Linked DNA regions of Homo sapiens. The protein of the gene in region 4 interacts with the protein of the main gene of each other region in a biochemical or structural test. Each region holds a gene or a part of one and is shown on either strand. Other genes may lie near its edges. The genes, in order: COPA, COPB2, COPE and COPB1.

Region 1 (8,440 bases), on a different chromosome or scaffold from region 4:
ATCTCCTTCTCTCCATTTCAAATGCTACTACCTAAGCTCAGGTTTCCTAACTGGTATTTTTGCCTCCTGTCTTGCCCAAATCATCCAATCTTTTCTTTAATTACCACCAAGTAATCATTTTAAAAACATATAAATCTGGTATCACTCCTGTATTTAAGTTCCTCAAATGGCTCCTAGTTATCTGCATGATAACATCTAAACTCCTGAGCGCCACAAACAGGTACTCCATGATCTGGCCCCTCTCATCTTCTGCCCCTTCTCTCACCATTTCTCCAGGTTTTCTCCATACAAAACCAATAACAGCTGCCCTGTATCTAGCTGTGTCATGCTTTTTGTCTTTGCACCTATACTGCTCTTTCCTATTTCACTGTGAATATCTCTCTATTATATTGCTTACCAAACTGTACATGCTATTACTTGGATATATGTTTATCTTCTGTATTAGAATAAAAGCTCCTTGAAAACAGAAGCCATTTCTTATTTATTTTTGAATTCCCTAAAAAGAAAACAGTGTCTGGTACACAGTAAGCATTCAATAAATGTTTGCTGAGTAAGTTCTCCGGATAATGTTGTCAAAGGCCTGAGCTCTGTATGAATGAAATTTCCTGTCTTTCAGTTCCTTTCATGATTCCCAAACCTTCCCACATCCTCTTTCCTTTATTCTCAGTTATGACAGACCCTCTGTACCTTAATCTTATAGTCATCTCCTCCAGAGACGAACAGTGGCTGCTGCTTATGGAAGTCAATGCCTCGCACTGGACCTGGTGGAGAAGGCAGGCAATGTATGTTAGACAGAGCTATCCTTTCTAATCTCTAAGGTGATTCCTATTCAGGATTTTTCAGTTCTATCATTTCCACATTCTTTAATCATAGAGGAATCCATGTCAAACAAGGCTTAAAATACCCCAGGATATTATAAATACTTATACTCCTTTAACTTCCTCCTAGAAATATCTCACCATCATGTTCATCAAACTTGTCAATGAGAGTGCACATCCGATAGTCCCATAACTGGATGACCCCATTATGTAAACTAGTCAGGATCCAAGGTCTTTTGGGGTGAAAGCTGAGCCCTGAAAAAAATAGAAAATGATACAATGAGCTAACTAAGCCCCATGATGTCACCTTCTGTCAATTCTGATAAGAAAAAGAAACATCAAGGTTAATCCTAGGTTCATTCATTCGACATGCTTGATGATTTTTTACTGGATGCCAGACATCGTGAATTTTATGTTTGGTACTAGATTTTTGTCATATTCCTTTACATATTCTTGGGCTTTGCTCTAGGATACAATTAAGTTACTTGGAATCAGTTGATCCTTTCAAGGCTTGCTTTTAGGTTTTATTACAGAGGGGCTACAGCAGCCTTCATTCTAGGCTTAATCTGGAACCACTATTAAAGCAATAGCCATCTGAGGTCTCTATTTGAAGCCCTGTAATATTAGGAAGTCTTTCCTTTCTGGCAAGTAGGAACACAAACTAGTCCCAGTTCACTAGTGTGAACTCTGGGGATTGCTCTGCCTTCTCCTTTCCAGTGGTCCTTTTTCAGGTTTTGAATAGTTTTCTCACATGCAGATCAGTACTCAAACAAAGACCTGAGAAGACATCCTGCAGATCTCTAGTGCTCTCTCTCTGCAGCCCCCTCTTCTCCGGTATTTTGCCCAACAAAATCTAGCCATCTTTGCTTCCCCACACTCTAAATTTATGTCTCCTCAGAAAGACCAAGGGATTCCCCTCTTCACTGAAGCCTAAAAACTCTCTAGGCAGTAATCTACGACAATCACAGGACTCACCTTGTTTATTTGCCTTCTCTGGAGAATTATTTTCCTGCACTGCCTGTTGCCCAACATCTGTGAGCAATGTATGAACCTTTGTTTCATACATTTTGTTCAGTTGTATAGTTAAGGTGGGAAGGTAAATCTGGCTCTTGTTATTCTATCATGACTGGAAATGGAAGTCCCCAGAGGTAACAACTACTAACAGTTTGAAGTGTATCCTTTCAGATTTTTAATGCAGTTACACATAGACATAGGCTTTAGTATTTTATGAAAGTGGGGATCACGTTATGATGTTGTTCTGCAAACTTCTTCCTCACTTAACTATATAATATGGATCTCATGGAAGTACATATAAACATAACCTCATTCTTTTTAACTACAAGGGACAAATGTACTACACTTATATTATTCTAACAGGCATTTTGTCCGCCAATTTTTGGCTATCAGAAGAGCCTACTGAAGATACTTCTACACATAATCTAGCCTATTTGCATTATTACTGCCCTAGGCTAAAGACCTGTGAGATTGCTCAGGAATAGAATATGTGCACTTAACATTTTAGTACATATAGTTTAAATGTAAAAACACTGTATCAATATACAGTCTCATGAAGTTTATGGAGGTGCCCATTTTGCACACAGGCTGCTATCAGCTATTTGTTGTTTTGTTTTATAAATCTAAGACCCTCCCCCCAAAAAAGTAACTTAACTTTTTTTTTCTTGCATTTCTTTCATTACTAGTGAGGTGGAACTATTTTAATTATTTATTGAACATTTACAATTTTTCTTCTAAATTGTCTATTTTTCCATTAGGTTCTTTTTTTTAATTATGATATATAAGTACACTCAACAATGGATGTTTGCCCTCAAATATTATGACATCTTTGTTTTTCCTTCTGTACTGCCCAGCAAGAAATTAGGAGCAGAAAAGAAAACTGAAAGATTATGAAGACCCATTTCACATTTCACCTATACAGGTCTCAGAAATTCTTAATGGTACCCATCTTTCAAGGTCAAGTTTCCCAAGAGACTTAGAAACTGCTCAGAATATATTCACACATTGATAACAACCTCCAGTTTTTGAGCTACTGAGTCTACACCAGGCGCTGTAATAAATACACTCCATATACTTTCTCATTTTAATACTCTCTATAAAAGACGATTTTACAGATGAGGAAATACAGACTTAGAGACATTAAGTAAGTCATCCAAGTCACAGCTTGTTAGTGGATGTCTCAGGATTCCAAGGCAAGCCCATCTGACTTCAAAGACCAAGTTCCTAACCACTTTGTTACGCTGCATCTCACTAAATATTCTAGATACTATTTTTTCCAGGTCTTCGGAGACCTTACTTCTCTGACTTTCACATTCTAACGTTCTGAGGCTAATACTGCGATCTCAGTATTTGCCCTCCACCCCCAACGACCCACACTCGAGCTCTAGAGCTGCCGTACTTAGCAAATAAAAATACGAGATTTCCAGATAAATTTGAACTTCTGGTAAGCAACGACAGACTAAAAAACTATTCATTGTTTACCTGAAATTCAAATTTAACTGGGTATCCTGCATTTTATCTGGCAACTCTATCAAGTTGAGACTTTATTGGGGTTATAAGCCTCAAGTACTATTTCCGGGTAGTAAATAAAGCCGAATGGAGGCACTGATGTTGAGATGCTGCAGCCAAGGCCTCCTTAAGTGAGGTTGCCACTACTCGTCTCCAAAAAGGCTACTGACTCGGGTGCGAGTAACAGAGATCGAGACTCAGTTCCCAGGGCCACTCCATATAACACAGTCATCAAAAAGCCAACAGATCACAGGGCCTTTGGAGCAGAACAACACAAATCGGGAGCACAGCCAAGAGAGAAAGGGGGAAGAAAGAATAGGGAGGGGGTCTAAGGAATCCCCTGCAGTGTGGGAGCCACTTTATAGGTAAATCGAAGCCCAAGGACACACCAAAGAAGAGGGGACTGGAGAACCGCTAGCCAGGCCCAACCTCTCTCCCACCCTCCGTCTTCCTCCGGGTCCGTCTGGTGGGCCCATTTCGACCAACACCTCTACCCATTTTCTCTTCCCCGGTGTCAGCGCCGCTCCTGACATCCAACCTCCATGTTCCCCCTTTTATTCTCCACTACCTTTGACCCGCGCGCTCTTGGTCTCGAATTTGGTTAACATCTCTCAGGTCTCCGACTCCGATGTCTTAATCCGAGCCCCGACACACCCTGCTGCCCTTCGGACGCCTCCACGTCAGCGACCCTCTCCCGCGGTTTCCGGAAGCGCCTGGAAACACGAACTTCCGGTCTCTTAGGCTCCGGGCCACAGAGACGGTGTCAGTGGTAGCCTAGAGAGGCCGCTAACAGACAGGAGCCGAACGGGGGCTTCCGCTCAGCAGAGAGGCAAGATGGCTACGGCAGGGGGTGGCTCTGGGGCTGACCCGGGAAGTCGGGGTCTCCTTCGCCTTCTGTCTTTCTGCGTCCTACTAGCAGGTGAGGCCTCCCCGCCCGTGAGCTCCGTTCTCTAAGGGGAACTCTCGGATCGGCCCCGCCGCGACCGCCACTGTCTCCCTTCTGGTTCCTGCTGCCCCTCTGTCCCCCCACCCTGTAAATCCTCTTTCTTTTTCGTTCCCACGACAGAAGTTCCCCCTTTGCCTGGACCTGAAGGTCCCTTCTCCCCCGCAGCACGTCGTGTCGCTTCACTCCCTTCTCTAGGCCTCTTCCTGGACTTCGAGCCTGACCCTCTCCCACTTTGTCCAGATGTCTCGTTTTTCCCACAACCCCAGCCACCCACCCCACAGTCGAAAGGAACAGGTGTGAAAGTTAGCTTTCTTCCTCGCGTTTAGACTTTTTGAGACGAAAGCAATCTTGTTCTGTGGGTGCTGTGCGGCGCTTAAAAGGTGGATTTCTTATTTCTTCCTCTGTTGATTACATCCTAAGTCTGTGTCCCCCTGCCTTGCCTCAGGTTTTTTTTTTTTTTTTTTTTTTAATCAGTAAAGCAAGAATAAGGTAGGATATGGGTACTCTTAACTGTGAAGACCCTGAAGTAACAATTCAAGGAACTTTTGGCATTTATAATGTACTTAAGTGTTTGCTGATACGCGTTCATTTACTGATACATGGCTTTTTAGTTGGTCAAGCCCTAAAATGCAAATGCCTGTATATAACTATGACTGTGCCTTCCCCCAATTCACATTGTTTTTAAGGATCCTCAAAGGAGAAACTACAGCTGCCCCACACTGTGGGCACACAAATGACCTGCTGATGTTAAATTAACTGACCCGTGTATGTCATAAGGTTTCTCTCAATTCTGTTCACACTCTTGGAAAAATGCCTCAGAAAGTTTTCTTAGCCCAGCACCTGTGTATTAACCAATTAGTAATATACATACAGGATATACAAGCAGAAGTGTGATCACCTGTGCAACCAGAATCTGGCAAATCTAAGGTCAAACACCTTTCCTTTGACCAAGTTTTCTCTCTTTTAGTGTCACTGTCAATGGCGCTACATGGACTTTGTAATAACCCTTTGAGGCACATAGCTGGGTGCCATGTAGAACATGTATCTGTTACGATAAGTGTGTGCCCAAGAAATCAGAAGAATGGACTTTAATCTCATTTTAGAAAGTATGATATTAAATGATTTACCCAAGCCATACTTCAGGTTAATGACACGATAGAAGCTAGTACCTGTGTCTCTCAAATTTTTCTAACACTTTTTATCTTCCGATCAGGTTTGTGCAGGGGAAACTCAGTGGAGAGGAAGATATATATCCCCTTAAATAAAACAGCTCCCTGTGTTCGCCTGCTCAACGCCACTCATCAGATTGGCTGCCAGTGTGAGTTGAGATGGATTCATGTTTGTGGACATTGATATTTGTCTGTGCCCTAGATACTAAGTAACATCCATGTCCTGCTTAGGAGATTTGACACTTATATTGGACTGTATGTAGGCAGTTACAGATAACCGTCTGTCAAGCTAGGCAAGATAATTAATAAGAACTAACATTTAGTAAATGCTGCATACCAAGCTTTTTACATGTGCATCTCATACAACCCCAACCACAACCCCACAAAATAGGTCTTACTGTTATTGTCACTTTATAAATGATGAAACTAAAACTTAAAGAAGTTGAGTAACTTTCCCAAGATCATACTGGTAATAAGTGATGATGCCAGGATCTGGTGGCCCGAGCACTAAGCTGAGAGACCTTTTTTTTTTGACACGGAGTTTCACTCTTGTCCCCCAGGCTGGAGTGCAATGGCACGATCTCGGCTCACGGTGACCTCTGCCTTCTAGGTTCAAGTGATTCTCCTGCCTCAGCCTCTTGAGTAGCTGGGATTACATGCACCTGCCACCATGCCCAGCTAATTTTTGTATTTTTAGTAGAGATGGTGTTTCACCATGTTGGCCAGGCTGGTCTCGAACTCTTGACCTCAAGTGATCCACCCACCTTGGCCTCCCAAAATGCTGGGATTACAGGCGTGAGCCACCGCACCCAGCCGAGCCAGCACTCTTAACCACCCTATTATACTGTTTTTTAAGGAGAAAAAAGTCTCATATTCTATGGTGTCCAGTTATCACTTGCACTCTGAACTTTTTGGAACCAAAATGGGCTAAAGGCAATGAACTATCTGAAGAGAAGGCACTGAAAATGCCAAATAGGCTGGGCGCAGTGGCACATGCCTGTAATCCCAGCACTTCAGGAGGTCAAGGCGGGTGGATCACTTGAGGTCAGGAGTTTGAGACCAATCTGCCAGCATGGTGAAACCCCCCCATCTCTACTAAAAATACAAAAATTAGCCGGCTGGCTGCTATGGCATGCCTGTAGTCCTAGCTTCTCGGGAGGCGGAAGCAGAAGAATCCCTTGAGCCCAGGAGGCGGAGGTTGCAGTGAGCTGAGATTGTGCCACCATACTCCAGTATAGGTGACAGAGTGAGACACTGTCTGAAAAAAAAAAAAAAAAAAAAAAAGAAAATGCTGAATAATTGCAAGAGGAATTAGTGAAGCATTCTATTTATCCTTTTTTAAAACTTTTTTTCCTTAAATTCAACTGACAGGCCGTTTATTTTCACACTTTGTGTGTTCCAAAAGAAGGTTCCATGACACTGTGGCTTTAAAAACTATCAAAATCATAGGGCAGGAAAAGTAGTAATCTAAAGGCTAACCTGCTGTCTTCAGATTTTGTTTCCCATGGACAATAGCTCTGTCAGAATGTAGTTTTGCAGATAAGCAGGAAACTTGGGGTCTGATACTGGCTTCTTCATCATCAAATTGATCACCTCTGAATTTCAGTTTACCCCTGGAATAATGGTTGGAGTACTTGCATAAAGCTGAAAGTCAAATACCTCTTAATAGTTGTTTATTGATGACGCTAGGTAAATAGGGTGGTCTCAAAAGTGCTGTATAATTTCCTGAAGCCTTCTTCCCATTTGATAAGAGAAAACTGGGACACTGAGAAGTGAAGGACTTGTTCGTGGAAGCAGTTACTACTTTTTTAGCCATCTTTCCCTGAGCTATAGTATCTGTTAATTGTCCCATGTCCCTGCTATACAAAGCACTGGGAGTAGGTTGACTGGTTCCAAACAGCCCCAAATAAAGTTTTTGTTGTACTTAGTTTCTTTTTTTTTTTTTTGAGATGCAGTCTCGCCCTCTCGCCCAGGCTGGAGTGCAATGGCACAATCTCAGCTCACTGCAACTTCCTCCTCCCAGGTTAAAGCAATTCTCCTGTCTCAGCTTCTTGAATAGCTGGGATTACAGGCGCGTGCCACCGTGCCCAGCTAATTTTTTGTATCTTTAGTAGAGGCGGGGCTTCACCATGTTGGCCAGGCTGGTCTCGAACCCCTGACCTCGTGATCTGCCCGCCTTGGCCTCCCAAAGTGCTGGGATTACAGGCATGAGCCACCATGCCCAGCCCTCTGGACTTAGTTTCTGAACTGGTTTGTAGGTAGAAGAGAGCTAGGTCCAGGGTGGGCTGAGATCAGACTGCTGGTCTTGCTGGAACCTCACTATAAAGTACAGAAGGCCAGGACCCCAACCTCTTGTAACTAGGCTCTAAGAAAACTCCTTTGGGAATAAGTCATTCTACTCTATGTTCTTAAAACAGCTCTGTAGGAAGCAAAGCCTCTAGAGGTAAAGCCACGTGCCAGTACAGAGAAACAAGAGGGGGTAAGCGGGACTGTGGCCACTTCCTCATTAAGATCTTGGTTCCTTTTCAACCTACTTATTTCCAAATCTTACTTCGTCATATCTGTCTTTTCTGAGCAGGCTCCGCCCTTTTTAATTAGTGTAGCTAACATGATAAAACTAAGGAGAAAAAAGTGATACCCAGATTTGATTTCTGATTATAATACTCTGCTTCTCTTAGACGCTTTAAAGTTCTCAAAGGGGGCTTTAAATAGGTTTCTTTTCCCTCCCTCCCTCCTTCTATCCTTTCTTCCTTCTTTCGTCTGTCCCCACAGTATGAGATGAATAGAGGTAGAAAACCTCATTGAAGGCGCAGAGAAAATAAGCAAGTTACTTAAGACTACACCATTACTAGTTGGAACCCAGATTAGAATCCAGGTTTTTTTCAGTCCAGTATCATAGTTTGTCTTCCTGTCCTCGCTGGAGTTGAAGTTTTGGGGTGTGTGTGTGTGTGTGTCAGAGTCTCACTATGTCACCCAGGCTGGAG
Region 2 (8,349 bases), on a different chromosome or scaffold from region 4:
CATATGAACTCTCTCCAGAGTATTGTAATTGAACACTCTAATCTGCATGTCATCCTAGAAACAGAAATTTTAAAACCATCATCCCTGTTATCAAGTAAATTATACAAAAAAACTATATCACAGGCTCAAGGAATAAAGTCTATGCCTCAAAACATTGCTGTAAATAACAAAACAAATCGGGAATCAAAATCCTGCAACAAATTTACACAATCATTGACCAATTCAGAAAATGGGAATAGAGATTCATATTAATTACTTACCGCTCCTGTCACAACCCAATTCTTCCTTGCAACAAACTTTGCAGCTCGAACAGGAAGATCACATACTTCAAATGTCTTCACCAGTGTCTTTAAAATGTAACAAGAATACACAAATTGAGCTATAAGAAAATAACCACAAAATCTACTCTGTTATATTTCAAACATCCAATTTTTAAGATCACTTCTCATTTTAGTATATTCTCAGGCTAAAATATAAAAGCTCAACATTCAAATTTTTAAAAAAGACCAACTATCTTTTAATAGATTCGAAATTAAAACACTTTTTAAAAGATAAGAGAAGGCAAATATCCACAAGATGGTATTCCAGATCCTCTGTGCTCCAGCCCTTCCCTCCCTTTTCCAGCCTCACCTTTGGCTACTCCCAGCCTCACCTCTGCTCTTGTTGTCTCTGACTTGAAAATCCACCCATGGAAACTTGTACTTCCCTTTCATAATGTAGCACCTCATAATTATGTTTAGTGCCAATCTTTCCTGCTAAGCTCTCCAAAGGCAGGAATATTTTTCACACTGTATAGGCAGAGGATAGAACAGTGGCTGGCACACAAGTAGTGTGTAATAAATATTTGTTGAATGAATTAGCTCTTAGTTTCTTTTTTTCTTTTCTTTTTTTTTTTTTTTTTTTTTTTGAGACAGTCTTACTCTGTCACCCAGGCTGAAGTGCAGTACAGTGGCACAATCTTGGCTCACTGCGACCTCCGCCTCCCAGGTTCAAGTGATTCTCATGCTTCAGTTACCCAAGTAGCTGGGATTACAGGTGTGCACCACCATGCCAAGCAAATTTTTGTATTTTTCGTACAGACGGGGTTTCACCATGTTGGCCAGGGTAGTCTCGAACTCCTGGCCTCAAGTGATCCACCCGTCTCAGCCTCCCAAGTGCTGGGATTACAGGCGTGAGCCACTGCACCTAGTCAGTCTTTTTGAAATTGAAACCCATAAAAGTGACTCATGAATAAGGTACAATTCTTTTGCATGCTTTAGCAATATGATTCCATACAAATGTTATTATTTCTTTTTAATAAAATATGAAAACACCGTGACTTATATGTTCCTCCGAGCTGCTCAGAATGGAATTATACACATAGGATAAAGGTAGAGACCCTCCTAGAAAGAGCAGAGATCATGGTACCTCTTTGTTCTCCTTCTTTGATGCCTGTTCTTAAAAGTCTGAAAGTCAAACTATCATTTTCTAATCCTTTTTTGTATCAGAGAGCAAAAATGAAATAACTAAGAAACACAATATAATCTTACTGATTGATTAACCATGTGCACTAAAAAAGTAATAGGGACCGGTTCATAAGAACTGTCCTACTCTGACTTTTCAAGCCAGAGTTCAAAGATTCTTTAGACAAAGGCTGAATGAGTAGGCACTTCAACTCTAACCTGTAGAATCACTACCAGCTGACTATGATACAGAAACTGAGAGTAGACACAACATGCGATCTATAACACGGCAGAAAAATCCACAAAAGCTCATGAGGAGCCAACAAATCCAGGGATCTGCTGAGCAGTAAAAATAAAGCAGCTGCAGAAGAAATAGCCAAGGTTCAACGCCATGTTAGGGGCTATGACTGATGCAAATAAAGAGTAAGAAAAGCTACACACACAATACATACAAATACTCAACGTAGATTAGGAAAGTATAACTAATGACTAATACTTATATGGTACTTTATAGGTTTCATACACAATTTTATCTAATTTTATTTTATCTTTTTGACAATCCTGTGATGTAGGCAAGGCAATAATATCATCTTCACTTCAGATAAATAAAGAGGCTCAGCATGGTTAAAAGGCTTGCCTATATAATTTAATCAGCAAGTTGGCTTCAAATCCTAAAATACTATGTTTTTTAAACCACTGCATGTACCACCTCAAAGAATATATAGCATCTCCTTATTTGAAATTCAAGTACATCTAAAAACCTTTTTACTTCCAAAAACCTTTTTGGCTCTCTCAAGAATTTGCTCTCAATATAGGAGTGGTAAATGCTGTTGGTGATATAAACACAGGGAAAAAACAGGGAGAATCAAAGACAGATTAATCATTCAACAAAGACTTACTATCTACCAGGAGCCTGACAGTGTATCAGGTAGTGCCTCATGCACTGGACCAACAGTGGGAAATAAGATGAGGGTAATCCTTGTCCTCACAGAACCTCCATTCTTAGAGGAAAGAAGGAAATTAAACATGAAATTACCACTGAGATGAATTATGAAAGGGGAAGCAGATGGTCCTGTCATAGGGCAGAAAAAGGTATAGAAGAGAAAAAGGAGGCAAAGTGGAAATGCAGATAAAGCAGAGATATATTACAATAAAGCCTAGAGAAAGATAAGAAAAGTACGCCTGGGCTTTAGAACATACGATGATCAAGTGATAGAGCTGAGATAGGTAAATGTAGCTGATAAGAGGGAATCCCTAGGAATAATCAGAGAGAGAGGACACCAACGTATCTGTTAAACATAAAATCAGAAATATTTTAAACATCTCAAGAACTAAACAAAAAGCAAAAAAAAAAAGTTATTTGCATCAAAGCAAAAACAATTCACAAGATAAAGATCTGAAATTGTAGAGAACACAAATACTGAACTAGTGATAAGTGAAATGCATATTATTCATTGGTTGAACAAATAATTATTGAGCATTTACTATGTGCCAGGTAATGTTATAGGTACTGAGATACAGCAGAAAACAAAATGTTAATTTATATAAAATGTCACTGATGGACTATGATATGGTTTGGATTTGTATCCCCACCCAAATCTCATGTCAAATTGGAGGAGGACCCTGGTGGGAGGTGATTGGATCATGGGGGTGGATTTCCCCCTTGCCGTTCTCGTGATAGTGACTTCTCATGAGATCTGATGGTTTAAAAGTGTGTGGCACTTCCCACTTTGCTCTCTCTCTCCTGCCATCATGTGAAGAAGGTGCTTGCTTCCCCTTCACCTGCTGCCAAAATTTTAAGTTTCCTGAGGCCTCCCAGTCATGCTTCCTGTTAAGCCTGTGGAACTGTGAGTCAATTAAACCTCTTTCCTTCATAAATTACCCAGTCTCAGGTAGTTCTTTACAGCAGTGTGAGAACAGACTAATACAGGGTATGAGTTTAGTGTACAGTCATTTCTGTTTCATTACAGTGAGTATAAAAGTATAAAGGTGTTTTTAGGTTTACTTCTGGCTTTGGTTCCTTGATGTCATTTTGCCATTTTAAATTCCTCAAATGCGAATTTTACCTGGATTTCAAGAACTTAACTTTGGACGTTAAGGATAATTACTATATAAGTAGACACAACTGTATAGTATAGTGCTAACTATATGCTTTGTACTCTTAAATACAGTCTAGGAAGACTGGAAAATATGAGACAAACTAATTTGAAGGATATGTTATTTACTCAGGTGAAAGAGAATGAGTCAAGCATTCAGGCAGACAATCTGTAAGATGTGTGTATAATCAAAAGCTGACTATAAATATTTCCCTGATATAATCTATATGGCTGAGTGAAAGATTTATCTGTGTATCATTATATTGGGCATCTGGGAGAAAAATAAATTTAACGATATCATTCTTAAGATAGAGTATTCACTGAATGGAAAACTAACGATTAAATACTTTAGCAAGTGATTCTATAATACCATCAGTTTTCTCAATTTCAAAAAAGAGCTAATACTACCTAAGTCAGAGTTGTTATATTTAAATATTGTATATAACATACCCAGGACAGTTTCTCCTACAAACTATCCCCTCATAAATGTTAGTTCCTTCATATTTAAAATACTTTGTACCAACTTGAGAAAGCAGTTTGCATATAGATTCTGGATTCTGTTATAATATTTCTTCTCTTTCATTATAAACACAGTCTCACATAGTATTTTATTTCTAATACAGTCCTGAAAAATTCCTACCTGTGTTTCATGATTCCAAACACACACACTGCCATTGTAAAGACTTGCCAACATCCATGGCTCTGTAGGATGCAGATCCACACTCTTAACTCGATCAGATCTAGCAGTTAGCTTTCTTTTGATATCAAGTCGCAGAGGCTAAAAAGAAACATTAAAAAAATTAAATTGCTAAGCCAAATAAAATATGTTTGAGATTTTAACTAAATAAGTGCATGAATAGGCCTACAAAACAATTCAGCTACTACTTTGCTAAGCTTTTGAAACAGTTTCAAGTCTAAGCACTTATTTCTTCATTTACACATCAAAAAAATCAGAATATTCAACATTTTAAGATTTACAGCAGTGGTCTTCAAGCTTTTTGCTCTAAGGATTCCTTTATAGTCCTTAAACACTTTGAGGACCCCTAAGAGCTTTTGTTTATGTGAGTTTTAGCTATTGGCATGTTACCATGTTAAAAATTAAACCTGAGACAACTTTAAAATATTTATATATTAATTCATTTTCAAATAACAAAAATAAATCCAGTACATGTTAATTAAAATAACATGTTTTTATGAAAAATAACTATGTTTTCAAAAAATTTAGTGAAAAGAGTGGCAATATTTTACATTTTTGCAGAACTCTTTATAATCTGACTTAACAGAAGACAGATGGTTTCTCATTATCTGCTTCTGCCTTCAATATGTTGTGATATGTTGTTTTGGTTAATGTCTACAAAATAATGCCTGGTCTCACAGATACCTAGTTGGAAAGTGAGGAGTATCTTAATAGTTTTTTCATTACTTGAAATTCTTCGAAATTCGAGAAGTGGTAGTTTCTTAAAGGCTACTTGCAAGGTAAAATCTGAAACCGTATCAATAAGCTGTTTATACTTCGTTACATTAAAATCCATTGGTTAAGTCCATACTTTGAATGGATCTTTCTCTCATGCATGTTTTTCTACCATTAAGCATTGGTCGTTTGGAAAATGCTGGTCCACTGAATTATGCACATCTTCTAGATGCTAACAACATCATGATACTGTATTAAAAAAATTACACATTCACTAATTTCACCACCTACTTCAACTGATAAGCCTTTAAGCATTGGAAATCCATCAAGTTCAGTGAGTTTTTCAAAATTCGAACTTTCACTTGAAAGCTTTAATTTTATCATTGGCAAGAAATACTGTCAGGGACCAGCCAACCTCTTTCAGGTTTTTAAAAAATGTCGACCAAATATTCAAGTCTGAATAAGCAGAGTTTCTCAGTCATTGTTTCAAGTAAAGCTCACAACTTAAAAACGCTACAAGTGTTTCCCCTTGAGACAACTACGATACTTCGGTATGCAGTAGAACTGCTTTATGCATACTCCCCATTTCACCACACAGAATTTAAAAGATGCATACTCAAGTGTGGAGAGGTAATAACATTTTTACTGTTTCATCAATGACATTCTTAAGTGAAAATGACTTTTTAAAAAACTGTCACAATGAAGAATATACTAACAGTACAATTTGGTGTCACTTCACTAGCAGTTTTACCTTCCACTACTTTTACACCATCAGTGCAAATATCAACATTGTGAAAGGTGCCAATAGCGTCTCACTGTTAAGAAAATAATTTTAATTTGTGGACCTCCTGAAAGAGTTTTAGGGACTCTTAAGGAATCGCAGACCACATTTTGAGAACCTCTAGTTCATAGAATTATCTAGTAAATAAATTTACTTTTTTTCTTTTTGAGACGAAGTCTCGCTCTGTCGTCCAGGCTGGAGTGCAGTGGCGAAGTCTCGCTCTGTCGTCCAGGCTGGAGTGCAGTGGCGCTGATCTCTGCTCACTGAAACCTCTGCTTCCCGGGTTCAAGCGATTCTCCTGCCTCAGCCTCCCAAGTAGCTGGGACTACAGGCGCATGCTACCATGCCCAGCTAATTTTTTGTATTTTCAGTAGAGACAGGGTTTCACCGTGTTAGCCAGGATGGTTTCGATCTCCTGACCTTGTGATCCGCCCGCCTCGGCCTCCCAAAGTGCTAGGATTACAGGCGTGAACCCCCGCACCCGGCCAATGAATTTTAAATATTCACAAATCACAATTTTGTGCCCAGGTCAATAGTGTCATATCAGGAAATATTCTGAAGAAGTGTTATTCATGAAGTCCTAGTAACCATAAAGCATAATATTGAGTTCTTTGGAGAAAAATGGTAGATTTATCTTGTCAAAAATACTAGTAAATGCTAGGTAACATAATGTGTGATCAATAAGGGTTATATCCCTATGCATGATGGCCTTTGGTATCAAATGGGAATGTCTGAAATATTTTAATGGATTTAAATTACAGAAACAATGAAAATTGGAAAAATTTAAAACAAAAATAAAAACATTCTCTCAAGTCAGAAAATATGAATAGTTTATACTAGCATTTTCAAGCCAAATTCTTCCTTTGAATTACAGAACAGATAATTATTTGAATAACTATTTTCTCCATTCTCCAAAAAATGCCATTATAGGAGAAAAGTTAATTCAATATATACAATGATCCTTAGGGCAGTGGGCTTAATTCTCTCTAGGAGGCATGCTGAGAAAAGACTGATTTAAAATATATTTCCCCTTCAACAGGTCTTAAACACAACCTAAAAGCTCATTTGGCAAGTTGAGTTACTGTCAAATCTTTATTGCTGTGATCTTCTATGATGATCATGAATGGGACAGAAATTTAAGGTTACTTTTGAATATAAAAAGAAGATCTAGCAGAGACAACTTCCTGAGACAAAACACCTCACAATGCTTTTACTCATCTTTTTTGGGGATTTTTATCAAATTTGGGTCATTGACTACTTCAAGTCTTGTTCTACCCACGCCTCCTTCATTTTCAGCAACAACCTTTACCTCTTACTTTAAAAGATCAGAGTTCTCTGGCTCTTCTCTTCAATCTCCTCAAAAATGTTTTCACTGTCATCAGTCCCTTCCTCTCTCCAATTTTCTACTTTCTTGTTTTTTTTTTTGAGACAGAGTCTTGCTCTGTCGCCCAGACTGGAGGGCAGTGGCGTGATCTCGGCTCACTGCAACCTCCACCTCCCAGGTTCAAGGGATTCTGCCTCAGCCTCCCGAGTAGCTGGGGACTACAGGTGCCTGCCACCATGTCCAGCTAATTTTTGTATTTTTAGAGACAGGGTTTCACCATATTGGCCAGGCTGGTCTCGAACTCCTCTCCTGACCTTGTGATCCACCCACCTCGGTCTCCCAGCTCCAATTTTCCACTTTCAAATCATCATCTTAACATTCCTTGCTAGTTCCCAAAATCAAGGCTTTTTACTTCATTTCTGAATTCTGCCCCATAAATTACTATTACAAATTTTAACTTCTTTTTAAATCTCTATGGAGTCAACAGGTATGAAGAGTCTATTATGTACCAGGCAGGAACCATGGTGAGGGTTTTCATATAAGCCAGCATGTCTCACAATTTTCCTCCAGTAATGAGGAAATTGGACACTTACAAATTGTGAACATTTTACTTTAAAATATTTTAAATTATTGATTATTGAGTAAAAGTGATGCTCCATAAGTTGGGCCAATGAACTCTGAGCAACCCCAGTAAACCTCTACATACTCCCAAAGCACAAATCTCAGTTTAAAAAAGAACAGGCAGCCAGGCGTGGTGACTCATGCCTGTAATCTCAGTACTTTGGGAAGCTGAGGCGGGAGGATCACCTGAAGTCAGGAGTTTGAGACCAGCCTGGCCAACATGGTGAAACCCCGTCTCTACTAAAAATACAAAAAAAAAAAAAAAAATTAGTTGGACGTGGTGGCACGCGCCTGCAGTCCCAGCTACTCGGCAGGCTGAGGCTGCAGAATCACTTGAATCTGGGAGGTGGAGGTTGCAGTGAGCCACGATTGCACCACTGCACTCCAGCCTGGGCGACAGAGTGAGATTCTGTCAAGAAAGAAAGAAAGAAAGAAAGAAGGAAAGAAGGAAGTAAGGAAGGAAAGAAAAGAAAAAGAAAAGAAAGAAAAGAAAGAAAGAACGAACAGGCAAGGGTTCTTGTGATAATATTTCTCCCAACAGTTAAGTGACTATTTTGAATAAGACAATGTACTAGGTACTTTGGGACAAAGATGATTAGGATGCTCACACTGTATCCTCAACTTTAAATATATCCCTCCACCTTCCAAAAGCTGGATGCATTTAGGACTCAGCT
Region 3 (8,349 bases), on a different chromosome or scaffold from region 4:
TGAGCCCAGGAGTTCAAGACTAACCTGGACAACACAGTGAGACCCCATTTCTAACAAAAAATACAAAAATTAGCCACGCATGGTGGCATACCGTTTCAAAAAACAAACAAAAAACCCCCCAAAATTCGTTTCTCCAAAATGGAAAAAGCTTTGATGTCCTTTCTGATTATAAAAATAATAATCCAGGCTGGGCACAGTGGCTCACGCCTGTAATCCAGTACTTTGGGAGTCCAAGGTGGGCAGCATCATGAGGTCAGGAGATTGAGACCATCCTGGCTAACACAGCAAAACCCCATCTCTACTAAAAATACAAAAAATTAGCTGGGCATGGTGGTGGGCGCCTGTAGTCCCAGCTACTCGGGAGGCTGAGGCAGGAGAATGGCATGAACCCAGGAGGCAGAGCTTGCAGTGAGCCGAGATCACACCACTGCACTCCAGCCTGGGCGACAGAGCAAGACTCCATCTCAAAAAAAAAAAAAAAAAAAATCCACCAAGCATGGTGGCTCACACCTATAATCCTAATGCTTTGGGAGGCTGAGGTGGGACGATCACTTGAGGCCAGGAGTTCGAGACCAACCTGGGCAACACAGCAAGAACAACCCCGTCTTTACAAAATATATATATATTTTTAATTTAACATAACATAAACTCTTCATAAAGACTGCAGATGGCCAGGCGTGGTGGCTCACGCCTATAATCCCAGCACTTTGGGAGGCTGAGGCGGGTGGATCACCTGAGGTCAGGAGTTTGAGACCAGCCTGACCAACATGGCAAAACCCCGTCTCTACTAAAAATACAAAAATTAGCCAGGCGTGGTGGCAGCCGCCTGTAATCCCAGCTACTTGGGAGGCTGAGGCAAAAGAATCACTTGAACCCAGGAGGCGGAGGTTGCATTGAGCTGAGATCACACCACTGCACTGCAGCCTGGGTGACAGAGTGAGACTCCATCTCAAAAAAAAAAAAAAAGAAGAAAGGAAAGGAAGGAAAGGAAGGAAAGGAAGGAAAGGAAAGGAAGGAAAGGAAGGAAAGGAAGGAAAGGAAGGAAGGAAGGAAGGGAAAGAAGGAAGGAAGGAAGGAAGGAAGGAAGGAAGGAAGGAAGGAAGGAAGGAAGGAAGAAAAGACTGCAGACATCAGGCAGGAGATGACTGCAGCCACCCTGGGCAGGCAGCGCTCTCTCAACGAAGAGCTCCTGTCCACAGCACACTCTCCCCTACATAAGTACGGGGAGTGTCTCTCCAATACTGAGTATGTACTCAGGTGAGGGGTCCCACTTGCAGGTCCCGGGCCAGGCAGCTGAGGTGACAACAAGGACGGCTCAGACCACTGAGGCCCAGGCTGCCCAGATGCCCCATTTCTGTGAGGCCGGAATCTGGATTTCTTTGCAGGTGAGATCCCTGCTTTGTGGATCTCGCTGCTGACTGGGCCTTAGAAGCCCTGTGGGGCCACACGCACACCCAGGGGGTCTCTGCTACACTTGTTTCTGTCCGCCCTGACCCCACCCTCTGGCCGCCTGGCCTTCCCTCCGTCCCCACTCTGGGACAGGCTTGTGCCTACCTTGTCTAGCGCCTCCTGCAGCAGGCCCTCAGCGGCCTCCCAGCGGCCCTGGGCCATGTGGCAGGCCGCCTGCCCATTGAGCAGCAGCAGGGTGGGCGAGCACTTGTCAGCCATCTCCTGGAAGATGTAGTAGGCATCCTGCAGCTTCTCACCACCCTGCAGGGAGGGTCCCGCATCATTGCCTGTGCCCCTGCTGCCCGGCCCTTCCCCCGCCAGCCCCCTCCCCTAGCGGGGGGGACTCCAGCACTGCACAGAGACGAATCTGGTGTGCCCGGTTCAAGGCACAGCCACTCCGCCATGGGGACTACCCGTAACTTGTACTCTGCTGATGGGGCCTAAAGACTCGTGGCCGCCTCCTGCCCCACCTCCCACCCAGCTCCCGGAGTGCTGAGTACACAGAGGTGGAATCTGGGGCTTCCAAGGCCTCAGTGCACAGGTGGCTGGCTCAGGGTCTGAGTGGGGACCACTGGGTCACTGAGCACGTCAGAGGAGGAGGAGTCAGCTCTGTGACCAGCAGCCCTGACCTGTCCACTTGCTCAGAACAGCAGAACACTTGCAGGGGGAGCCTGAGGCCAAGGCAGGCAGTGAAAACAGCCCAAACTACCCGATAGGTCTGCCGGGGCCTGTCCTACCATACTAGACGGTCACTGGAAGTCTGTCTGGGTGAGGCTTCAGCCCCGTGGCGGGCAGGGACGGGGAGCACATTTTTTTTTCTTTCTCAGAGTTTCACTCTTGTTGCTCAGGCAGGAGTGCACTGGCGCGATCTTGGCTCACCGCAACCTCCACCTCCCGGGTTCAAGCGATTCTCCTGCCTCAGCCTCCTGAGTAGCTGGGTTTACAGGTGCATGGCACCAAGCCCAGCTAATTTTGTATTTTTGGTAAAGATGGGGTTTCTCCATGTTGGTCAGGCTGGTCTAGAACTCCCAACCTCACATGATCCACCCGCCTCGGCCTCCCGAAGTGCTGGGATTACAGGCGTGAGCCACTGCGACCAGCCAGGAAGCACATTTTAATAGGCCCACACAAAAGAGTGGCTCAGAAGGGGGCCAAGTCCCAGAAACCAGGAGAGGGGCTGTTGCCGGGCGGAGGTGCCCAGGCCTGGGAGCTGAGGACATCTCCACCGCTGCTATGGGAACACTGAACTCCGTCCCTGGCTGGCGACCAGGACCCTGGAGAGCAAAGCTGAGTCGCAGAAAACCCCAGGAAGCCCTGAGGGGAGGAGGGCCTGCCAGGCCAACCCAGACCCTCGAGTACCCCTGTGCCTCAGGCTCAGGAACCCGTCCCCGCCCCCACCATCTCTTCGCTCTGGCTCTGGCCAAGTCGCTTGGCTGTGAGAAGCCCGGAATGGAGTCAAGGCTGAGTTATGCCAGGCTGGCAGGGGCCACGGCCTGATCCTGGAGCCCCACTGGAGTGGCCAGCAGCCTACGCACAGGTGGGGGTGCCCACAGACCCTGCTCAGCCAGGTGCCCGCAATGCCCACCCACCTCATGGCCTAGGGCTCACCGTGGCCAGGCTGACCCAGGCAGTGGCGAGCTGGGTGAGGGTGGCATCCTCGTCCAGGTCCTGCATTCTCTTCAGCTCCTTCCTGGGGCGGGGACAGATGACAGAGGGGCTGAGTGGCCGAGGGCCCTGGCCTGGCCATCCCTGCCTTGTCCCCACTTGGGGCCCACCGGAGCCTGGGGATGGCCCCTGCTTTGTGCTCCACTGCATGCTCATACCCCACGACTAAGTGCCCGAGCCACCCTGCCCGTCTGACCACGTGCAGGCCCTGGGAAGGTGGGACTGGGGCCAGCTATGGCCCCCCAGGGTGGCCACCACAAGGTAGAGCTCAGGAGAGACTCACTCCATGGAGGATGGAACGCAGGGAAGGGCAACGGAACTACAGTGTGAACAACTCTGAGGCAAGGGCTTTGGAAACGGCAGCAGGGGAGTCCTGGACCCCCAGCCATGGCCTCCGACCTGGTGATGCCACGTGCAGGCCCCGCCAGCCCCACGGCACAGTTACAAGCTGGTCAAGTAACATGTTGCTCCAGGCACAACCTCCACTCTCCCTCCATGAAGCCCACCCTCACCCTGTGGGAGAGGCCTGCCACCCACTGCATAGAGAGAAACTGAGGCACAGAGAGCCATGGCCCTCCTCCCTGGCAACATACTGCAGGGAAGGGCTGAACGACAGCAAGCCACCCCCATGGAAAGGAAAGACAACAAGAGTAATGACAGCACCACAGACGCTCTGGGCTGTGACGCTCTGGGCTGTGACGCTCTGGGCTGTGGCTCAGTGCGGGTGGAGAGGGGCAGGAGGGCTCACCGGGCGAGGTCCAGGCGGTCCAGCTTCAGCAGGATCTGCACTGTCATGGCTGTGCTGCAGGACAGGGCGAGGGGGCGGTCAGCGGGTCGCCACAGACACATTGCATGGCCGCTCCACACCCAGGGCTCACTGTGTGTGTCTGGGATGTTCCTAAGTCCTGTGCTTAGGACCACCAGCCCCGCCCAGCAGAGGAGGACACCCTCACTCCCACATTTCACCGCTCAGCTTCCTCAGGCCCAGGAGCTCTGGGGGAGGTACCCAGGATGGGGTTTCAGGCCCCGGCCCACTCACCGCCCATCTGGAGAAGCAGCCTCCATGGGCTGTGCTTCCAGATGGAGGGCCCTGCCCGGACTCGACACCCTGGAGGCATCAACACTCAGGAACAAGGCCCTAGAGGAGGGCCACGCACCCGCCCCTGCACCTGCACCTGCAGCAGAGCCCTGGGGCCACCCACTCTCTGCAGGCCCCCTCGTCCCCTCATCCCTCTCAGCCCCAGGTGGCTGTGACCACGAATTACTCGTGAGGCCTCTTGTTCTTGTTTTCCTGCCAACAGGAGCCAGCACCTGGACCAGCACCGAGTCGGCCGGCTCGCCGACAGTGTGACATCCCTATTTATTTTCTTTTTTGTGTGTGAGTCAGGGTCTGGCTCTGCCACCCAGGCTGGAGTGCAGTGGCACCATCACGGCTCACTGCAGCCTCCACCTCCCAGACTCAAGGGATACTCCTGCTTCCGCCTCCCAAGTAGCTGGAAACATAGGTGCATGTCACCATGCCTGGCTCGCCCTGCAATTCTAAGCCCTCTGTGGATGGAGGTGGGATGGGAGCAGATCCACAGCGACCATGAAATGCCCAGCTTGCAACTCACAGTGGAAGGCAGGCACTGCAGGGACAGCTCACGGGGAAGAACTGACACACTTTCTGTGACCAGTGCCCTGGACATGGCCCGGAGTCACATCCTAGGGTGGAGGGGGGCACCAACCTTGCAGGGCTTCAGCACCCCAACCCCAGAGGGCCCTGGAGGAGGGCCGGTATGGGGGGCCCGGGGAGGCCTGAGAGACTGGGCCCAGGGCCGAGACACAGAAGGCTTCGTGGGGGGTGGGGACACAGAAACCGAGCAGAGACAAAGCCGCTTTCTGCTCTGCCCTTGGGAACAGAGGGTTGCAGCCTGGGCACCGTGTCCTTGGATCTGCAGCCTGGTGCGCAGATGGGAGTGCCTCCCACACTGGGCAGGGGAGCTGGAGCCTGGACAGCAGGCCAGGGCCTCATTTCAGCACCACCTTTCTCTGCTCCCATGACGACAGCCAGCGAGGCCGTGCGCAGCCTGGAGATGTGGCAGGGGGCACTTGCCTCCCTGGGCTGGCCCCAGAGCAGGGAGGCCACTCACCACTCCAGGCTGTCCCCCTGGTGCAGCGCACGCAGGGCGGCATCCGGGTTCTGGTCGTGGAGATAGATGGAGGCGGCCATGAGCAGGAAGGTGGTGTTGGTCACGTCCACGCTCCTGCTCATCTCTCGGTCCAGCTCGGCCACGATGCTGTCCCTGCAAGACAGAGATGCTCACGACCCACAGCTGGGGTGGCCTCTGTGGGACCTCAGAGGGTCCCCTTCCTTGGAAGCAGACAGGTCCAGAGAGGGTGAGCCAGGCCCTGGGGGTGCAGAGCAGCAGCAGGCCGAGCATCGAGCTGTCCCGACATGTCCTCCCTCCGTTCCTATGAAGCACCTCTCATGCTGGGCCAGGCAAGGACCCGAGGCCGGGAGATGTGGGGTGGGGCGCTCCAAGGGGACATGAGGAGGCACCGTCAGTCTCACACCAACCTCACCCGCCTTCCTGAGGAGGCTGGTGGGCCCAGCTGGGACTCCTGACCATAACCCATCAACCCTGTGGGCTTCAAGGCCACGTCTTCTAGCAGGAGGTCGGCCTGGGTGCCGAGGGGCCGTGCAGAAGGATGGGAGCCCTGGGGCACCCCCACTGCCAGGGCAGCTGCCCTCAGTCCCTGAGAGCCCAGGGTGCTGGCTGCACCCTGAAGATGGCCAGTGTGCTGCGGGCCAGGGCCAGGCTTGAGCCCAGGCAAGGCTGAGGACCGGCTCAGCTCCGAGGGCACAGGTCACCCATGCCTCCATGTCCCTAACTGGACCCAGACCCTCCATTCCCCATGGCTATTGAGCAGCTAAAAAGAGAAGGCAGGTGAGGGGGCCACCCTAGACCAAAGCTGGTGTTCTTCTGGGTTCAAACGTGGCTCTGTGACCCCGTAAGCATCCACGCGCATCTGGGGGCTGTCTGCCCAGGGCCCGTGTCTGAGGTGTCACTGAGGGCATGGCATGTCTGATACCAACCAGGCTCCACTGAGGGCTCGCCACAGTGCCAGGTCCAACAGACAAGTGACTTCAGGTCTGAGTCTGTTTCCCCGTGCTGAGGGACCATGTTACAGGGATCATGCAGGGGAGGAGCAAGGAGCTCCCAAGACCATCTTACAAAGCTTCCTGAGGCTCCAGCACACAAGGGTGTATAAACACTGCCAGTTGTCGTAGCGTTGGTACTGTAATGTTGTCATCCTAAGGTGTTACAATTACCAATGGGGCCGGGTACTGTGGCTCACACCTGTAACCCCAGCGCTTTGGGAGGCCAAGGCAGGATCGCTTAAGCCCAGGAGTTCAAGACCACCCTGGGCAACATAGTAGGACCCCTTTTTCTACAAAAAAGTAAGAAAGTCAGCTGGGCCTGGTGGCGCCTGTAGTCCCAACTACTTGGGAGGCTGAGGCAGGAGGATGGCTTCAGCCCGGGAGGTTGAAGCTGCGGTGAGCTGTGGTCACACCTCTGCACTCCAGCCTGGGTGACAGAGGGAGACCATCTCAAAAACAAGCAACAGCAACAAAATCAATTACTGGGCGGATCGCTTGAGCCCAGGAGTTTGAGACCAGCCTGGGCAACATGGCAAAACCCCATCTCTCTTTTTTTTTTTTTGAGACGGAGTCTCGCACTTTCGCCCAGGCTGGAGTGCAGTGGTGCGATCTTGGCTCACTGCAAGCTCCGCCTCCCGGGTTCATGCCATTCTCCCGCCTCAGCCTCCCGAGTAGCTGGGACTACAGGCACCCGCCACCATGCCCGGCTAATTTTTTTTGTATTTTTAGTAGAGATGGGGTTTCACGTGTTAGCCAGGATGGTCTCCATCTCCTGACCTCGTGATCCGCCCGCCTCGGCCTCCCAAAGTGCTGGGATTACAGGTGTGAGCCACTGCGCCCGGCCAGGCAAAACCCCATCTCTAAAAAATATACAAATTAGCCAGGCATGGTGATGCGTGCCTGTAGTCCCAGCTATTCGGGAGGCTGAGGTGGGATGATCACTTGAGCCTGGGAGATCAAGGCTGCAGTAAGCCAAGATTGTGCCACTGTATGCCAGGCTGAACGACAGAGCAAGACCGTATCTCAAGAAAACAAAATCAAAACCAAAACCAATTACTAATGGATGCTCCTTGTCCCCGGGGCGTCCTGCCAATGAGGTCGCGGCTGTGCAGCCAGATGAACGGACCACAAGCCCCTGCCTGGACCGCCTGCTCTCCGGGGCTGCTTTTCTGTGATGCTCACAGCAGCTGCTGCTCCTGGGGGACCCAGGGTTCCCTGCCTTCACTCCAGCTGGTGAAGTAAGTGCAGGGTGGGAGAAACAGTGGCCCTGGGAGGTCACCTGTCTCAATGTCCTGGAGCTGCTGTGGCAAAGCACCACAGCCCGGGCAGTTAAGGACAACAGGGATTCGTTCCTCACAGCTCTGGAGGCCGTAAGTCTGAAGTCAAGGTGGCGGCAGGGCTGGCTCCAGCTGGAGGCTGGAGGGCAAGGCCGTCCCAGGCCTCTCTCCCAGCTCTGGTGGCTGCTGGCCACTCGTGGTGCTCCTTGGCTAGCAGACATGTCACTCCAGTCTGTTGTCACATGGGCTTAACTCTGTGGGCCTCTTTCCTTTTTTTTTTTTTTTTTTTAAGACAGTCTCCCGCTGTCACCCAGGCTGGAGTGCACTAGTGCGATCTTGGCTCACTGCAACCTCTGCCTGCCAGGTTCAAGCGATTCTCCTGCCTCAGCCTCCCAAGTAGCTGGAATCACAGACATCACATCCTGTTAATTCTGTATTTTTAATAGAAATGGGGTTTCACCACGTTGGCCAGGCTGGTCTTGAAAACTCCTGACCTCAGGTGATCTGCCCACCTCGTCCTCCCAAAGTGCTGGGATTACAAGTATGAGCCACTGCACCCAGCCCTCCTTTTATCTCTTAAAAGGACACAAGTCCTTGGCTTTGGGGCCCACCCTAAATCCAGCATGTCTTCATCTCCTTATCTCTTAATCTGATCGGCAAAGACCCTTTTTCCAAATGATATCATATTCACAAGCATGTGGGATAGGATATGGACGTACCTTTTGGGGGACACCATTCACCCCACCATGCTGCCTCTGCACAGGAGTCAGCTCCCAGGAACCCCAGGTTTCTTTGAGTGAAGGGAGGCGGTAG
Region 4 (6,149 bases):
GATCTCAGTGTTCTGGAATCTCAAATGCCCTGTAATCTAGGCTTTTTTTTTCTTTTTTTTTTTTTAAAAGCAAGTGGCTTCACAGTTTATGACATCATACAAGGTATCAATCTCCTTATACTCCAAACAAATCATTTCATTCTTAATGAAATAGGAGATGCTTTCAGTCTTTCACAGACCTTATCTAAGGACTCACAGGGAATGCAGCCTGAACCCTAGCTGGTAGACAAATAATAGCCTTAAGTTTAGACTTAGCTAAAAAATCAGACTACCTCAATCACCCCCAATGAAAGTAAAGGCCAAAAGGAAAGCACAATCAGACGCTGGGAAACTTAGCTTGGAAATGCATTTGGAATTATACTGCAGTGTGATGGTACCCAGTCCTAGTGTGAAGTGAGGAAAAGGAGACGAGTGAGTAAGGCACAGAGGCAACAGAGAAAAAGGCAGCTTTTTGAATCCTCTCTAGTTGAATCCTCCCAGTACCAGCTTCAGTAATTGGTTAGAACCAGTTTTATTCCTAACAAACATAGAACACCCTAAACTAAATGTGAGTAAGGCACGGAGGCAACAGAGAAAAAGGCAGCTTTTTGAATCCTCTCTAGTTGAATCCTCCCAGTACCAGCTTCAGTAATTGGTTAGAACCAGTTTTATTCCTAACAAACATAGAACACCCCAAACTAAATGTGAATGATTAAAAAATCTATTTTGGATTATCTACTCTTCATTATGATTCAGGATAATTAAGAACAGTATATCTATTTCAGTTCGGGTACATAATACTTCTTTAAACTGCAGAGCGATCTGTTTTCTCAAGTTATTTTGGGCCGGGTGCGGTGGCTCACGCCTGTAATCCCAACACTCCGGGAGGCTGAGGCGGGCGGATCACGAGGTCAGGAGATCGAGACCATCCTGGCCAACATGGTGAAAGCCCGTCTCTACTAAAAATACAAAAAATTAGCCAGGCGTGGTGGCGGGCACCTGTAGTCCCAGCTACTTGGGAGGCTGAGGCAGGAGAATGGTGTAAACCCGGGAGGTGGAGCTTGCAGTGAGCCAAGATCACGCCACTGCACTCCAGCCTGGGTGACAGAGCCAGACTCCATCTCAAAAAAAAAAAAAAAAGTTATTTTGATACTTTCTCCCTGGAGCTAAATTCAAGAGCAAATCCCTTCAAAACATGATAATGCATTTTTAGAGATAGCAATGTTGGAATATTAAATAAGTAAAAAACAACCAAGTGAATCAAGGCCTACCTTATTTTATATCATTGAATTTGTAAATTCTCTTAATAAAGCTGCATATATTCACAACTCAGTAATTTAAATTTATAATAGAAATTTATAACCCAACTAAAAGAAATCCATTGCCATATAACTAAAATTATGTAATCATTTATTTATAAAATAACAAAAATTTATGAATAGATCTGTTTATTGTACTGTGAAAAGGGTCTTGGTACATGAAACATTATATACTTTGAGGACAGCATTCAGAACTGTTAAGACAAAAGACAAACTATAATTTTAAACTCAATCTTGATTTAAGGGAAAGGCTATAAATTATTGGCTGAAAAGTATTCAGCATGAACTCAGATTCTATATAAGCATGAAAGAGTACAAAAGATGTTGGAGTCCAGTAAGCCCATACCTAAATTAACTGTAAAGCTTCAAGGACTTTTTGTTTATTTTTATATACTAGTTTTCTTCTGTGACAAGTTGATTTTATCTCCAAGACTTAAGGCCATTCCCTGTAAAGAAAAATTAAGATATTTATAATTATTTAAACTATGTACAATCAGTAGGTTATTCCATATTATTAAGCCCCAATTCAATTCAATGACACCATTATCAACAATAAAATCAAGGACATACCAAACAGACTTACCAAACTTTACTGGTAATTACCTTTCAGTGCTAGATTTTTCAAGCCGTCACCAGATTTTTTTTTTTTTTTTTTTTTTTGAGACGAAGTCTCATTCTGTCACCCAGGTTGGAGTGAAATGGCACAATCTCAGCTCACTGCAACCTCCACCTCCCGGGTTCAAGCAATTCTCCTGCCTCAGCCTCCCGAGTAGCTGGGATTACCGGGTGTGCGCTACAACACCCAGCTAATTAGTCACTAGATTTACACCTTGGCTTTCAAAAAATTCTAGAGAACCCATTTCACAAACACCCCATAGGAATCAATCTGGTTTTAGGCAAATATCCCAGAATGAGGGGCCCAAAAGGTGAGAAATTTTAATGAGAAAAGTTATACTTCTATTCAGAGTATATTATTATTGTATGTGTATATGCATCTAATGCTAAAAAGATACTACATATAGAAATAATAAAGTCATAAATTCCTCCCCCCTTTGTCAGTCCAGAGATACTCTCAAAAAAAAAGGAACTGTTACCTGGCTCTTTGCACGAATTCTTATATGGCCGGTAACAGCAGCATCTGGTCCCTGGTGAATTGGCTTCTCAATGCTGACATTTGCAAGTGCATCTTCACCAAATATGGAACGAGCATAAAGGTTGGCTGCCATAAAGCCACAGTAACCAGAAAGGGCCTGGAAAAAATTTGTGATAAATTCATTACTTTACCAGATACCTACATAGAGGCAAAAACCAAACAGCATAGGTGACTTTTTTTTTTTTTTTTTTGAGACAGAGTCTCACTCTGTTGTCCAGCTTGGAGCTGGAGTGCAGTGGCGTGATCTCGGCTCACTGCAACCTTCCTCCCAGGTTCAGGCGATTCTCCTGCCTCAGCCTCCCAAGTAGCTGGGATTACAGGCATTCGCCACCACACCTGGCTAATTTTTGTAATTTTAGTAGAGACAGGGTTTCACCATGTTGGCCAGGCTGGTCTTGAACTCCTGACCTCAAGTGATCCACCCGCCTCGGCCTCCCAAAATGCTGGGACTGCAGGTGTGAGCCACCACGCCCAGCCCCATTGGTTATTTATCACTTAAAACAGTACTTACATACAGGGTGGTGGTTACATAATCTTATGAGTTTGTCAAAACTCAACTATACATGTAAAAAGTGTGAATTTTACTGTGTATTATACCTCAATAAATCTGATGTTAAATAAATAGTTCTTAATCCGATTTGTATTTATATATTCTGTTTACTTAACTTGCTTGACTGCCTCCCATATCAGACCTTAAGCGCCATGAAGGAAGAGACTACTTTTGTTGGACTCAGTATATGCTGAATAAACTAATATATAAATTAAAACCTACTTGTTTGGTAGCAGACATTATTTTATTTATAAAATGAATATTATAACATTATAGAAATTTTACATAAAGAAAAAAGTTCCTTAGAGCTCCAGCTTCATTTTTCTTTCTCTCTCGTTTTTTTCATACATACACAAACATAGCAAAAAGTCACAGTATAACAACGATTCTGTATTTGAGCACATATATTTTAACCAACAATCAGAGCCCACGGAAGAGCTCATGGACATTTTCTAATCCAGTATTACAAATAAACGATTTTATTTATCTTTTTGAGACAGAGTTTCACTCTGTCACCCACGCTGGAATGCAGTGGTGTGATCTCGGCTCACTGCAACCTCCACCCCCTGGGGTTCAGGTGATTCTCCTGCCTCAACCTCCCAAGTAGCTGGGATTACAGGCACGTGCCACCACACCTGGGTAATTTTTGTATTTTTAGTAGAGATGGGGTTTCGCCATATTGGCCAGGCTGGTCTCAAACTCCTGACCTCAAGTGATCTGCCCGCCTCAGCCTCTCAAAGTGCTAGGATCACAGGAATGAACCACCATGTGCAGCATAAACTACTTTAGAATGTGCCTCTAGCTGAATGGGGGAGAAGATTGAAAAGAAAATAAAAAAAAAATTAATCTGACTATTCAGTTGGGTCACTGCACTAGGAAAAAGTAGGATGGTATAGTCCAATAGAAAGAGGTAAGCAGATTCCAACATTCTATGGGATAACATCTTTTAGATAGCCTAGAATGGTACTGCATATTGAATAACAAAAATGTGCTAGAGGAAATACAGGAAGGCCAGGAACCTACTCTACCATTCCATCAGATTTCTGAATTTCCTAGTCAAATTTTACCTTTTCTGGAGTCAGGCATTTCATATTGGTTGACTTTAATATGTGCTGTAAGTAGTCATTTAAATCAACCATGTTGGTGTTAACTGTCACCTGTAGAGAGGAAAAAAAAGTCAAGGAGATCATAAATCTTACTATGAGAAAGCTGTGAATCACCAGTATGTCATATTAAAAACTTGTTCCAACTGTTTAGGTTGGAAAGAGTAGACACCAAGAAACTAAATAACATCTATAAAATCCAACAAGCTGTAGGTTGGTATCAGTACTTCCCAATAGAGATAACTTCACAGAGATTCAATATGAAGCATATAGAATATTTCTTTTTTTTTTTGAGACAGGGTCTCACTCTGTCACCCAGGCTAGAGTGCAGTGCGTCATTTCAGCTCACTGCAGCCTCAACCTCCCATGTTCAAGTGATCCTCCCACCTCAGTCTCCGGAGTAGCTGGGACTACCACACCGGGCTAATTTTTGTATTTTTTGTAGAGATGGAGTTTCACCATTTTGCTCAGGCTGGTCTAGAACTCCTGAGCACGAGCAATCTGCCTGCCTCAGCCTCCCAAAGTGCTGGGATTACAGGCACGAGCTACCGTGCCCAGCCTCATATAGAATATTTCTAATAAAAGTCAAGGCTCAAAGGGACAAAGTTCCTCAACAGACCATGAACTTTGTAAAGCCTTTTTCGGGCACTAGATTAAATGGTAAGCTCTTGGTCATACATAGAAGGGATGGAATATTACCTATAATGTCTAAACCTATCAGATTGGCTATAGAACTGCTACTCTAATCAATTTATAACAGCAAATTACCAAACTACTTACATGATTTTTAGTTAAGGCTAATTTGCAAGAACAGATACTGAAAGACTATTTGCTTTTCATGTTAAACACTTTTTAGCGAGATTAATTTTATTAGCAGACTCCTCAACAGCAGGCAAAAGGAAGAAAGATAAAGGAATATGAGAAAATCTCCCAAGGACTAACTTTGTTTTCCCATTCAAATTCGGCCCACATCTGACGGAATTCTGCATCAGTGCAAGTTGCAGGCTGGATATAGTCCATGATGTCGATGTGAATATCACTGAGAACCACACAATTTCTGTCACTTGCTGCTCCAGAGACATCATAAACTGCAATTACATATACAAAAAGATTCGCAATCACTGGGGCAAACTTGAATTTAAAAAATCTTAATATCCAAATATCCAAAGAACTACACTATTAACAATAAGATTGTTTATATAATACTTATTATGTACAGAGCTCTATTCTACATGCTTTATAAATATTACTGGTTTAATACTCCCATCAATTCTGATAGTATTATTATTTTCCATCTTACATATGAGGAAATGAAAGCAGAGAAGTTAAGTAAGTTGTTCCAGATCACACAACTGATAAGTGGTGGGGATAGGATTCGAACTCAGGCACACTTTGTTTTTTGTGGTTAAACAAATAATTCAATTCAGTGAGTACTTACATAGCAGTTGCAGCATACTAGGCACTGCAGCAGATATACAAGTGGACGATGTTCCCATAGGAGGTACTTAACTAATACTTTTGAATAAATATTGCTGACCCATACTACTTAATGATACAAGATTAGTCATCCCTCAGTATTAATGGGGAATTGCTTCCAGGACCCCCTATGGATACCAAAATCTACAGATGCTCAAGTCCCTGATATTAAATGGCATAGTATTTGCATTACCTATACACATCTTCTCATATATTTTAAATCATCTCTAGCTTACTTACAGTACCTAATACAACATAAATGCTATGTAAATAGTTATACTGTATTGTTTAGGATATAATGACAAGGAAAAAATGTCTATATATGTTCAGTATAGACACAACCATTTTTTTTTTTTTCTAAAATATTTTCAGTTTGTGGCTGGTTGAATCCATGGATGTGGAACCCACGGATACAGAAGGCTGACTATATTTGCTTCTATGACCATTTCTTCCACAGTAGAGAGTTATAATCTGATTGGAGCCTACATTCCTCTTTCTAGGCTCTTTTCTTTTCTTTTTTTTTTTTTTTTTGAGATGGAGTTTCACTCTGTCACCCAGGCTGGAGTGCA

What was found.
Region 1: the proteins of COPB1 (region 4) and COPA form a complex in vitro, tested with the Homo sapiens proteins (one study listed by BioGRID).
Region 2: the proteins of COPB1 (region 4) and COPB2 form a complex in vitro, tested with the Homo sapiens proteins (one study listed by BioGRID).
Region 3: the proteins of COPB1 (region 4) and COPE form a complex in vitro, tested with the Homo sapiens proteins (one study listed by BioGRID).

Annotation. Positions count from the first base shown.
Region 1 is NC_000001.11:160,339,222-160,347,661, forward strand, and holds the start of COPA (coatomer subunit alpha), read right to left. Parts: upstream 4,030-8,440; 5' UTR 3,950-4,029; coding exon 3,910-3,949; intron 1,074-3,909; coding exon 960-1,073; intron 762-959; coding exon 688-761; intron 1-687. Other genes in the region: NCSTN (nicastrin isoform 1 precursor), read left to right, coding at 4,176-4,260, 5,501-5,605. UniProt on the Homo sapiens protein: The coatomer is a cytosolic protein complex that binds to dilysine motifs and reversibly associates with Golgi non-clathrin-coated vesicles, which further mediate biosynthetic protein transport from the ER, via the Golgi up to the trans Golgi network.
Region 2 is NC_000003.12:139,379,120-139,387,468, forward strand, and holds part of COPB2 (coatomer subunit beta'), read right to left. Parts: intron 6,311-8,349; exon of another isoform or gene 5,885-6,310; intron 4,317-5,884; coding exon 4,179-4,316; intron 348-4,178; coding exon 261-347; intron 55-260; coding exon 1-54. UniProt on the Homo sapiens protein: The coatomer is a cytosolic protein complex that binds to dilysine motifs and reversibly associates with Golgi non-clathrin-coated vesicles, which further mediate biosynthetic protein transport from the ER, via the Golgi up to the trans Golgi network.
Region 3 is NC_000019.10:18,901,714-18,910,062, forward strand, and holds part of COPE (coatomer subunit epsilon), read right to left. Parts: intron 5,400-8,349; coding exon 5,247-5,399; intron 4,223-5,246; coding exon of another isoform or gene 4,154-4,222; intron 3,917-4,153; coding exon 3,863-3,916; intron 3,140-3,862; coding exon 3,058-3,139; intron 1,711-3,057; coding exon 1,555-1,710; intron 1-1,554. UniProt on the Homo sapiens protein: The coatomer is a cytosolic protein complex that binds to dilysine motifs and reversibly associates with Golgi non-clathrin-coated vesicles, which further mediate biosynthetic protein transport from the ER, via the Golgi up to the trans Golgi network.
Region 4 is NC_000011.10:14,456,140-14,462,288, forward strand, and holds the end of COPB1 (coatomer subunit beta), read right to left. Parts: intron 5,193-6,149; coding exon 5,047-5,192; intron 4,159-5,046; coding exon 4,069-4,158; intron 2,549-4,068; coding exon 2,393-2,548; intron 1,745-2,392; coding exon 1,685-1,744; 3' UTR 1,373-1,684; downstream 1-1,372. UniProt on the Homo sapiens protein: The coatomer is a cytosolic protein complex that binds to dilysine motifs and reversibly associates with Golgi non-clathrin-coated vesicles, which further mediate biosynthetic protein transport from the ER, via the Golgi up to the trans Golgi network.